Homo sapiens: one gene and its partners. The protein of the gene in region 1 purifies or fractionates together with the protein of each later gene. This does not show direct contact. Each region holds a gene or a part of one and is shown on either strand. Other genes may lie near its edges.

The links. Proteins that work in one complex are often made in the same cells at the same time.
Region 2: the proteins of DNAAF4 (region 1) and NCK2 purify together in Homo sapiens (affinity purification with mass spectrometry; 3 studies listed by BioGRID and IntAct, with this or other methods). This does not show direct contact.
Region 3: the proteins of DNAAF4 (region 1) and PLPBP purify together in Homo sapiens (affinity purification with mass spectrometry; one large-scale study listed by BioGRID and IntAct). This does not show direct contact.

The regions. Positions count from the first base shown.
Region 1 is NC_000015.10:55,466,735-55,470,234, reverse strand, and holds part of DNAAF4 (dynein axonemal assembly factor 4), read left to right. Parts: intron 1-3,073; coding exon 3,074-3,305; intron 3,306-3,500.
Region 2 is NC_000002.12:105,891,342-105,894,772, forward strand, and holds the end of NCK2 (cytoplasmic protein NCK2), read left to right. Parts: intron 1-1,640; coding exon 1,641-1,835; 3' UTR 1,836-2,931; downstream 2,932-3,431. UniProt on the Homo sapiens protein: Adapter protein which associates with tyrosine-phosphorylated growth factor receptors or their cellular substrates. Maintains low levels of EIF2S1 phosphorylation by promoting its dephosphorylation by PP1.
Region 3 is NC_000008.11:37,772,645-37,776,144, forward strand, and holds part of PLPBP (pyridoxal phosphate homeostasis protein), read left to right. Parts: intron 1-110; coding exon 111-245; intron 246-2,664; coding exon of another isoform or gene 2,665-2,694; coding exon 2,695-2,837; intron 2,838-3,273; coding exon 3,274-3,372; intron 3,373-3,500. UniProt on the Homo sapiens protein: Pyridoxal 5'-phosphate (PLP)-binding protein, which may be involved in intracellular homeostatic regulation of pyridoxal 5'-phosphate (PLP), the active form of vitamin B6.

The DNA.
Region 1 (3,500 bases):
ACTAAAAATACAAAAATTAGCCAGGCGTGGTGGTATGTGCCTGTAGACCCAGCTACTCAGGAGGCTGAGGCAGGACAATCACTTGAACCTGGGAGGCGGAGGTTGCAGTGAGCCGAGATCGTGCCACTGCACTCCAGCCTGGGCAACGGAGTGAGACTCCGTCTCAGAAAAAAAAAAAAAGGGGTAAATATAAGCGAGGTATTTATCTGATTCCTGTGAGCCATTGAAGCAAATGGTCAAACCTGAGGAGGGGGTTGTAGAAACCCCCAACTTATAGCTGATTGGTTAGAAATATGGGAGTCCTGGACTTATGATTGGCATCTGTGTGGAGACTGTCTTATGGAATTGAGCCCTTAACCTGTGGGATCTAATGCTAACTCCGGGTAGATAATGACAGAACTGAATTAGAGGACACATAGCTGATGTTAGAGAATTGGTAAGCATAGGCCGGGCGCAGTGGCTCACGCCTGTAATCCCAGCACTTTGGGAGGTCAAGGTGGGCGGATCACGAGGTCAGGAGATCGAGACCATCCTGGCTAACACAGTGAAACCCCGTCTCTACTAAAAATATAAAAAAAAAATAAATTAGCCAGGTGTGGTGGCAGACACCTGTAGTTCCAGCTACTCGGGAGGCTGAGGCAGGAGAATGGCATGAACCCAGGAGGCGGAGCTTGCAGTGAGCCGAGATTGCGCCACTGCACTCCAGCCTGGGCGACAGAGTGAGACTCCGTCTCAAAAAAAAAAAAAAAAAAAAAAAAAAGAATTGGTAAGCATAGGAGAAACCCACAAGTTTCGTGATGGAAGTGACCTATGGAGTGTTGTGAGAGTATATAAGAGGCATAAACAGTTTGTTTTTTCTCTGTACACTCTGTTTTTCTTTTTCTTTCTTTCTTTCTTTTTTTTTTGAGAGGAGCCTCGCTCTTGTCCCCCAGGTTTGAGTGCAATGGCTTTATCTCGGCTCACTGCAACCTCCACCTCCCAGGTTCAAATGATTCTCCTCCCTCTGCCTCCCAAGTAGCTGGGATTAAGGGCCTGCCACCAAGCCCGGCTAAATTTTGTATTTTTTAGTAGAGACAGGGTTTCACCATGTTGGCCAGGCTGGTCTCGAACTCCTGACCTCAGATGATCCACCTGCCTCAGCCTCCCAAAGTGCTGGGATTTCAGGCGTGAGCCACCGCGCCCGGTCACTGTACACTCTGTTTTTCTTTGGTACATGTAGTCTCTTTTCTCTTTATCATAAGCTTTGTGTTATTTTCTTCTTCATGTTTTTCTCTTCATTGTAGTTCCTTCTGTTACCTACTCTGTGAAGCCTTTCTTGGTTTCTCCTCTTCATCACTACTCTCTGAAGAGCTGGACTATTTCTGTCTCTAATATAGCTTATTATAAATTATCATTATACCTATAGTTCCCTTAACTACATCTTGGCTATAATACCAGAACTTTCCTGTTATTTTTTGTTGTAAGAACAGTCTCATTTTTGGTAATTAAGACTTAGTCTTATGCATTTTAAAAACTTCATGTAAAATTCATTCTTCTTGCAGGGAGTATGATGGGTGAGGGTGTCTGACTCTCCACATATTCTCCCTTTTTCATGTGTTGGGGCAGAGAGTGAAAAAAGGCAGACATATAATTAGGCTGGGTGAAGTCGTCTTTTAGGTTGTGGCTTCCTCTCTAACATGGAGTGTTCATCATGCCTTATTGTGAGGCATTTAAATTTTGTTTCATTGCCATGTGTAGATTCTTCCTGGTTCAATCTGTTGGCAGCTTACTGGCAACTCTCTGAACTAAGAATATATAGTAATAATTAGCATATTTTGTGCTTAATTTAAGCCTGAGGTAAAATTGGGACTACAGGAAATTTTCATTCAGTGTCCCGTGAAATTTATTTTAAAGTCAGCATCTCACAGGAAAATAATCAGTCTTCTAGAAGAGAGTATTATGTCATGTAGATATTACAGAGCACCTTTCAGTGCACAGGTTTCATACTCGTAATGTTAAATCTCTATTTTAAAGTAATACAACATTTAGGGACCTTCATCCTAGCATATCCATAGTCTAGAACCACTTCAGATGTCCTATTTAAATGTAAATTAATTTAAATGTACATTAATGAAACTTAAATAACATTAAAAATTCAGTTCCTGAGTCTCAGTAGCCACATTTGAAGTACTTAATTAGCCACCTGTGGCTAGTGGCTACTATATTGGATAGCACAGACATTTTGATCATTGAAGTAAGTGCTTCTCTAGTGGATAGAGGTAAGAAATTTTTCTTACCATAGGAAAGTCAGATACATGGAGTCAATCATGTACACCAACTAGGTACTCTGTTTCACAAGGTTTTTTTTCTTGCCCATGTGAGGGAAGTTTGAAAGGCAGAAAAGTTGCCACACACCTGTACAAGATACTGCTTTCAAATTCATCTGATATTTAGCTCTTTGAAAGTGTCAGACAACTACTAGTGCAAACATAGGTTTTGCAGCAGGATTAAGACTTCAAATATTTCCACCCAGCAGAGACAGACCGTCTTGTTCATCCTTCCTATTTCCTTTTCTACTGTTCCCTCTTCCTTCAGTCCTTAGGACTGAAGGGTTGGCACAACTTCGGTTGACAGGGTAAGACTTGGGATAAGTTGAAAAGCAAATGTTTGAATATATGTGTTGGGATGTGTGTGTGTGTGTGTGTGTGTGTAGATTTTGAGAGAAGTGGCTTAACTCCTAGAATAATAAATTTCTATTATTTTTTCTACCAAGCCCTTAGGTATCATCTAATTGAATGCCTGCCCACATTTTACATATAAGTAAACTGAGGTTGGAGAAAGTGATTGCCTAAGACCATACAGCTAATGGTAGATCTGGGACTAAAATCTTTGTTCCATGACTCCAACACCAATGGTTTTTCTCCTGAATCATTTACCTTTCCCATTTTAATTCATAATTCACTACTACCTATTGTTACAAATACAATGGCAAGAGTTTAGAGGTATGAATAACTAATTATTGTAATGAATTTCTCATTTAAATAAATGTTGCTTTTATGTATTTTAAAGAATTTGGTAATTGCAATTGTTATAGATTGAAGAAGAAGAGAGGAAAAAAATAGAAGATATGAAAGAAAATGAACGGATAAAAGCCACTAAAGCATTGGAAGCCTGGAAAGAATATCAAAGAAAAGCTGAGGAGCAAAAAAAAATTCAGAGAGAAGAGAAATTATGTCAAAAAGAAAAGCAAATTAAAGAAGAAAGAAAAAAAATAAAATATAAGAGTCTTACTAGAAATTTGGCATCTAGAAATCTTGCTCCAAAAGGTAAAATGATTAAGAATTTCTTGAGTAGTGAGTCCTGTTGGTGAAGTATATATGACGCTTTTCTTTTTTTGTAAATCTATTCACAGCATTAGGTTACTGTTTTGGCACATTGAGAATAAGCAATTCAGTACAAAGACTAAAGTAAAGACATTTCTTCTTTCGGGGATAATGAAGTTTTCTAATAAAATGAGCAAG
Region 2 (3,431 bases), on another chromosome or scaffold:
CAGATTGTCACAGAGCATATGTCCTGCATGCACACACATGTATCCAGGGCACCGCCTGCCTGGCATGTGTTAGTAACTAATTGTTATTCATTTAATGAATTGATCAAAACTTGATATTTTTGTACAAAGAACATTTATCGTTCAGTATCTTCTTTCCTGCATGCTTTTCAGCAAATGAGATAAAAGACCAATTTTTTTTTTTTTTTTTTTTTTTTTTTTTTTTTTTTGAGATTTTTCGCTCTTGTTGCCCAGACCAGAGTGCAGTGGCGTGATCTCAGCTTACAACTTCCACCTCCCAGGTTCAAGCGATTCTCCTGCCTCAGCCTCCCAAGTAGCTGGGATTACAGGCACACTACCACCATGCCTGGCTAATTTTGTATTTTTTAGCAGAGATGAGGTTTCACCATGTTGGCCAGGCTGGTCTCAAAGTCCTGACCACAGGTGATCCACCTGCCTTGGCCTCCCAAAGTGCTGAGATTACAGGCGTGAGCTACTGCACCTGGCCAATAAAAGACACATTTTAATTAAAATAATGACATGTTTCTAAAATATTCTGAAATAGAAGGCACATCACAGAATTTAAATATTTTTCAATAAAATCTGTAATCAAACCATAGTTCAGCTTCCTCTGGGATATTGTGAACTATGTTTAAAATGCGACCGGAATTTTCCACTGCTGTTCATATTTTTAAATGCTTAGAATTAGAAAAATTAGCCAGGCATGGTGGCACATCGGGAGGCTGAGGCAGGAGAATCTGCTTGAACCTGGGAGGCGCAGGTTGCAGTGAGCCAAGATCACACCATTGCACTCTAGCCTGGGCAACAAAAGCAAAACTGCGTCTCAAAAAAAAAAAGAATTAGAAAAATTTTGATGTCTTAATTTCTAATAGGGTTAGACATCAGAAGTAGTAAAATTTCTAGCTACTGCCTGCATGCAAACCACTCTTAATAAATTCCCAGTTTATCAAAAAATAGTTTGGGAAATGAAAAACAGCAAATTTCTTGAGCAGTCAGGGCAACACTGTATATTCCATAGTGAAGTGCTGTATATTCCATAATGAGTTTGCACTTTTCAAATAACTAAAACGCATTTAGCACTGAAACTGGGCTAAGCAGAATTTATTTTTTCTTTGGTTCAGAATTTCAGAATCGTGGACTACCTCCAGGTCTTTCTGAACATCAGATGCCGTTCTAGATATAAAACAGAGACCCGGCTGGGCGTGGTGGCTCATGCCTGTAATCCGAGCAATTTGGAAGGCTGAGGCTGGGAGGGGGGTGGGGATCACCTGAGGTCAGAAGTTCAAGACCAGCCTGGCCAACATGGCGAAACCCTGTCTCTACTAAAAATACAAATATTAGCCGGGCATGGTGGCAGGTTCCTGTAATCCCAGGTACTCGGGAGGCCGAGACAGGAGAATCGCTTGAACCCGTGAGGCGGAGGTTGCAGTGAGCCGAGATTGGGCCACTACACTACAGCCTGGGCAAAAGAGTGAAACTCCATCTCAAAAAAAAAAAAAAAAGCAGAGACCCAGTGTTTGAGCAATGGGTGGTTTGGATTTAGACGCACAAGAGATGTGGATGGATTTAGACACAGCTCCCCGCTGTGGCCCGGCTGTAACTGTGTTCTGTTTCCTCCCCAGCCCAGCGACTTCTCCGTGTCCCTTAAAGCGTCAGGGAAGAACAAACACTTCAAGGTGCAGCTCGTGGACAATGTCTACTGCATTGGGCAGCGGCGCTTCCACACCATGGACGAGCTGGTGGAACACTACAAAAAGGCGCCCATCTTCACCAGCGAGCACGGGGAGAAGCTCTACCTCGTCAGGGCCCTGCAGTGACGGCGCCCCGGCCCCACACTCGCCTCCCGGGCCCCACGGTGGAGCTGCCCGCCCGGCCTTGTGGCAGAGGCTCCTCCCGCGGGGACGGCCCCGACGGCTTCTCTGCGAGTCTCTCTTTATGTTCAGGTCGCTTGGTCGGTTCGTCTCCCATTTGCCATCCAGGCCTCACACCCACACTCGAGCCCACCCGGCCGGCCAGCTTTAGAGGAGGGGAGGAGCAGGGCGAGTTCACATTATTCCTTTTCCATCGGAAGTGGCGCTCGTGCATTCAACTCGTTCCCGCTCATGGAACCCCTCTTTAAAAAGACGCAGGGCACCTGTGAGCGCAGGAGCGAGCCTAAGGCCACCCAGCGGCAGCGCCCGTGTCCTGGGCACTCAGCGTGCTGGGCAGAGCAGGTGCGATGGCCCCAGTCCTAGCAGCCCTCGCCCATGTCCTGTGCCCTTACATGGCTCCCGGACTGTGCAGGGAGCCGATACGTTTGCTGATAGCAATACTGGAACCACCGGGTGCGATGGCAGTGAGGAGACTGCCCAGTGCCTTTGGGGCTGTGCTTGCAATAAAGAATTTCCTGGAAAGGCAGTCTGCAAAAGAGGGAACCGGTGACTCAGAAAGACAGATGTTTTGGTAATTTACCCCAAATGTGCCATCCACATAGTGCTTTTTCCTCTTGCCCTTCGGCTTGTTTGAATCTCACAATTATGTATTTAATTCTCAAAGAAATATGTATCTGTAGCCGTTTGTTGACACTAATACAGATGATTAAGGAAAACAGCTGATCTTTGGGGAAGGGAGCTACCAACACTTTATACACACACACACGTGCACACACACACACACACACACTATATATATATATATTATTTACAGGGAAATTTTTCAGGGTTTACAAAAGAGTATGTGATTGGTAGTAAGAGACACACAGAATGTTTATGAAGAAATTGCATTTTCTTTTTCCTTTACATTTGAACTTCTTTATAGTTTAAATATAACGTCTTGAGATGGCACATTCCTACGATTGAAGAAGGGGTCTTGAGATCCCCTAAACTTGCATACCCAGTTTTTTGGATATTGTAATAAAAAAAAGTATTATGACAAGGCTCTGTGTGTATTTATCTTTGGGAAAACTCAGACTCAATCATGGGAGAGTAATTACTGAAGCATTCACTCATTGCGGAGTGGAAATCATTTTTAGAGAAGAGCTTAACATTTATTACTTGTGTGTTTTCATTTTCTACCCCCACATTTTTGTATATTGAAATAATGAGTTTTAATTAGTGAAACCCCAAGGGAACCCAGAATCTCAAGCTTGGTCTGAACTTTGCTCTTTGGAAAATATTTGTTTAGAAATATGTTGCTGAACTCTTGGCAGCCAGCGCTCTCACACCATGTGTCCCCCACGACTAACTCTCGATTTGTCCTCTTGATCGGGAGCATTTATATTGATGTGCCAGGCCCTGGGGGTGCAGAGTCACATGACTTGGCATTTGTGCCCTCCTAGGCCAATCACGTATCAAGCGCTCCCTCTGCACCATGCACTGCGCCCCCATTTGTTCCTCATCACAGCCCCATGAGGTGGGACCTGCTATCATCCCCAT
Region 3 (3,500 bases), on another chromosome or scaffold:
TTTTTCTTTTCCTGGCATATTTTTTCCTCTAACAAGTCAGAGATTTGTTGCATGTTACTTGCTGCAATAGAGCAAATAAGGAATACTACTTTGCCTCTGTCTCATTACAGCTGTCCCCAATCTCTTCATGCTGGAAACAGTGGATTCTGTGAAGTTGGCAGACAAAGTGAACAGTTCCTGGCAGAGAAAAGGTTCTCCTGAAAGGTTAAAGGTTATGGTCCAGATTAACACCAGCGGAGAAGAGAGTAAGTAACCAGACCTGAATTGTAGATTTTTCTTCCTTTAGGATGGTTGAAGCTTAGGGAGAATGGGTGGGCCCAAGTGTCTGATGGATAAGGTTATAGAAACAAATCACAGGATCACAGGCCTCTAAGTTGGCTGTTTTATGTGTGATCTAGGTAGCATAATGGCATGCAAAGCAGTCTATGTATCATTCTTTACTACATCATGGTTCATTATATCTTAATTTTAGGGGAAGAAGAATGGATGGGGAGTTCAAGAAGGGGATTGTGACTTCGTTTTGTATTTTTGTTTTTTTTTTGAGATGGAGTCTTGCTATGTCGCCCAGGCTGGAGTGCAATGGTGCGATCTCGGCTCACTGCAACCTCCGCCTCCCGGGTTGAAGCAATTCTCCCACCTCAGCCTCCCAAGTAGCTGGGACTACAGGCGTGCACCACCACGCCTGGCTAATTTTTGTATTTGTAATAGCGATGGGGTTTCACCATATTGGCCAGACTGCTCTCGAGCTCATGACCTCTCAAGTGATCCACCCATCTCGGCCTCCCAAAGTGCTGGGATTACAGGCGTGAGCCACCACACTCAGCCTTTTTTTTTTTTTTTTTTGAGACAGAGCCTCACTCTGTCGCCAGGCTGGAGTGCAGTGGCACGATCTCAGCTCACTGCAACCTCCGCCTCCTGGGTTGAAGCGATTCTCCTGCCTCAGCCTCCCGAGTAGCTGGGATTACAGGCACGCGCTACCACGCCCAGCTAATATTTGTATTTTTAGTAGAGACGGAGTTTCGCCATATTGGTCAGGCTGGTCTTGAACTCTTGACCTCAGGTGATCCACCCACCTCAGCCTCCCAAAGTGCTGAGATTAAAGACATGAGCCACTGCACCCGGCCTGGGATTGTGTCTTTCATCTGGAAACCCCCAAAGGTCACCATCACTCCTACAAGGAGTATTTTAAATTTTTAAGACCTAAGATTATATAAATACTCTTAGATCTTAAAAAAATTACTTGATGTTGCATTGGGAGAGAATGGAAGATAATTACTGTGAGTGGGCCAGGTGCGGTGGCTTACACCTGTAATCCCAGCACTTGGGAAGGCTGAGGCAGGTGGATCACCTGAGGTCAGAAATTCGATACCAGCCTAGCCAACATGATGAAACTTCATCTCTACCATACATACAAAAATTAGCCAGGCATGATGGTGTGCACCCATAGCCCCAGCTGCTCGGGATGCTGAGGCAGGAGGATCCCTCGAACCCAGGAGGTGAATATTGCAGTGATCCGAGATCGCGCCACTGCACTCCAGCCTGGGCGACAGAGTTAGACTCCATCTCAAAAAAAAATAAATAAATAAAAAATTATGGTGAGCACCAGTCAATGAATATCTTTATGGGGCTTGGATTAACAGTGTAACATAGTGTGAATAGAAGCATGGGCTTTGAAATCAGACAGACCTTGGGTTTCAGCTACACTACTTTCCAGTATTGTAACCTTGGATAAGTTACCTAATCTCTCTGTACTTCAGTTTCCTTTTTTGGCAATGGTATCATGAGAATGCTTACTTCAGAGGGTGTGGTTAGGACTGAATATGATAATCCAGGCAACATTGTTAGCACAGAACCCTACACATGTTGTTAGCTATTCGTTAAGAATAAATGTATACAGATCAGGCATTTGATTGCAACCATCAAAGCACCAGTATTCACCAAATCTTAGTATGCAGGAACACAGTAGAGGCATCTGTTTTCTAGATAACGTCCTAGAGTCAGACTACCTGGGTTTAAATCCCAATTATCAATAGAAATCTGAAATCAACTATAGGTCAAGTCTTTATTGTATCATTTCTTGATAATTAGCTATAATATGCCCTATTTAAAGACTGAAGTAAATGTTACTAGTATCTCCGCCTAATAAATGGGGGCAAGACAATATCAATAGCTCTTATAACTGTATAACAAATAATTGCTTGCTGCAGATTTCTCTTCCAGTTGTTAATTAGAAAGTTCAGTTAAACTTTGCTAATATATAGCCAAAAATATTTAACATGTACTTTATACTAAATTTTTTGCAACTCCATTAAATTAATAAAACTATAAAAATTCTTGATTTAGAAAAGTAATTCTCAGGTTCATCTGGCATTTTGGCAATGCAAATCTTCCTGGTATCCCAAAAAAGCAAGATTTTTTCTTTTCCATGTCTCCTAGCTGTTTTCAGCTGAAATCCTGAGATGGAGGAAAGAGAATCCAACTGATAGTTCTTTTCTTGAGAAATTTAGAACCTGACCAGAAGCAGAGCAACATAGAAAACCCCAAGTATAAAGTTACTCTTTAGGACTTGAGGCTCTTTCAAGAGGTTCTCTTGTTGGGGGTCACCTCTTCTGTCGTAAGGAAGGGAGGAAAATGGAGCCTTCCTCTGGCCATTTACCCTTGCAGTATACCTGTTTTCTGTTTCTTTTCTTGAAGGTAAACATGGCCTTCCACCTTCAGAGACCATAGCCATCGTGGAGCACATAAACGCCAAGTGTCCTAACCTGGAGTTTGTGGGGCTGATGACCATAGGAAGCTTTGGGCATGATCTTAGTCAAGGACCAAATCCAGACTTCCAGGTACTGGGGGGTCGGGGAGATTGCTCGTGTGCTAAAGAAGCAGGGTGCTGGAGTGCTATTGCAGGGCTGGCTGCAGTGGGGATTGCAGAGTCATCCCAGACACTGCCTGTTGAGTGTTCTAGCCCTCTTTTGAACTCTTCTCAGAAGGAAAAGGGAAGAACAGGTTTCCAAAGCCCCACAAACCTTTTTCAACTCAACTTGAACTTGGCTAAAACATAGTCTTTAGAGAATATGAGATTTCTTCCTCTCCAGTGACTAATAGTTTTCTCGAAAGTGGGATAGTTTGCAAAAAACCCTTTCAGTAACGTCTGGCAATTTTGGCAGGCCTTGAAATCATAAGGAATACATAACCGTTGTCAGAGAAGTTCAGATTCAGACACTTTTGGGCATCGTTAGAGAAGGCAGGAGTAAAATAGGTGTCATCTCTTTCTGTCAGCTGTTATTGTCCCTCCGGGAGGAGCTGTGTAAAAAGCTGAACATCCCTGCTGACCAGGTTGAGCTGAGCATGGGCATGTCCGCGGATTTCCAGCATGCGGTGAGTGTCCTGCCAGTGCCCTGTCTGCCTCGAGGGGTGGGGGTAGGGGGTCTGAGAGGCTGACACAAGAGCAGATCTTTGCTGTAGAAGCCTTGGAAATGCCTTGGGATGGCAGTAAGGTACCCAGT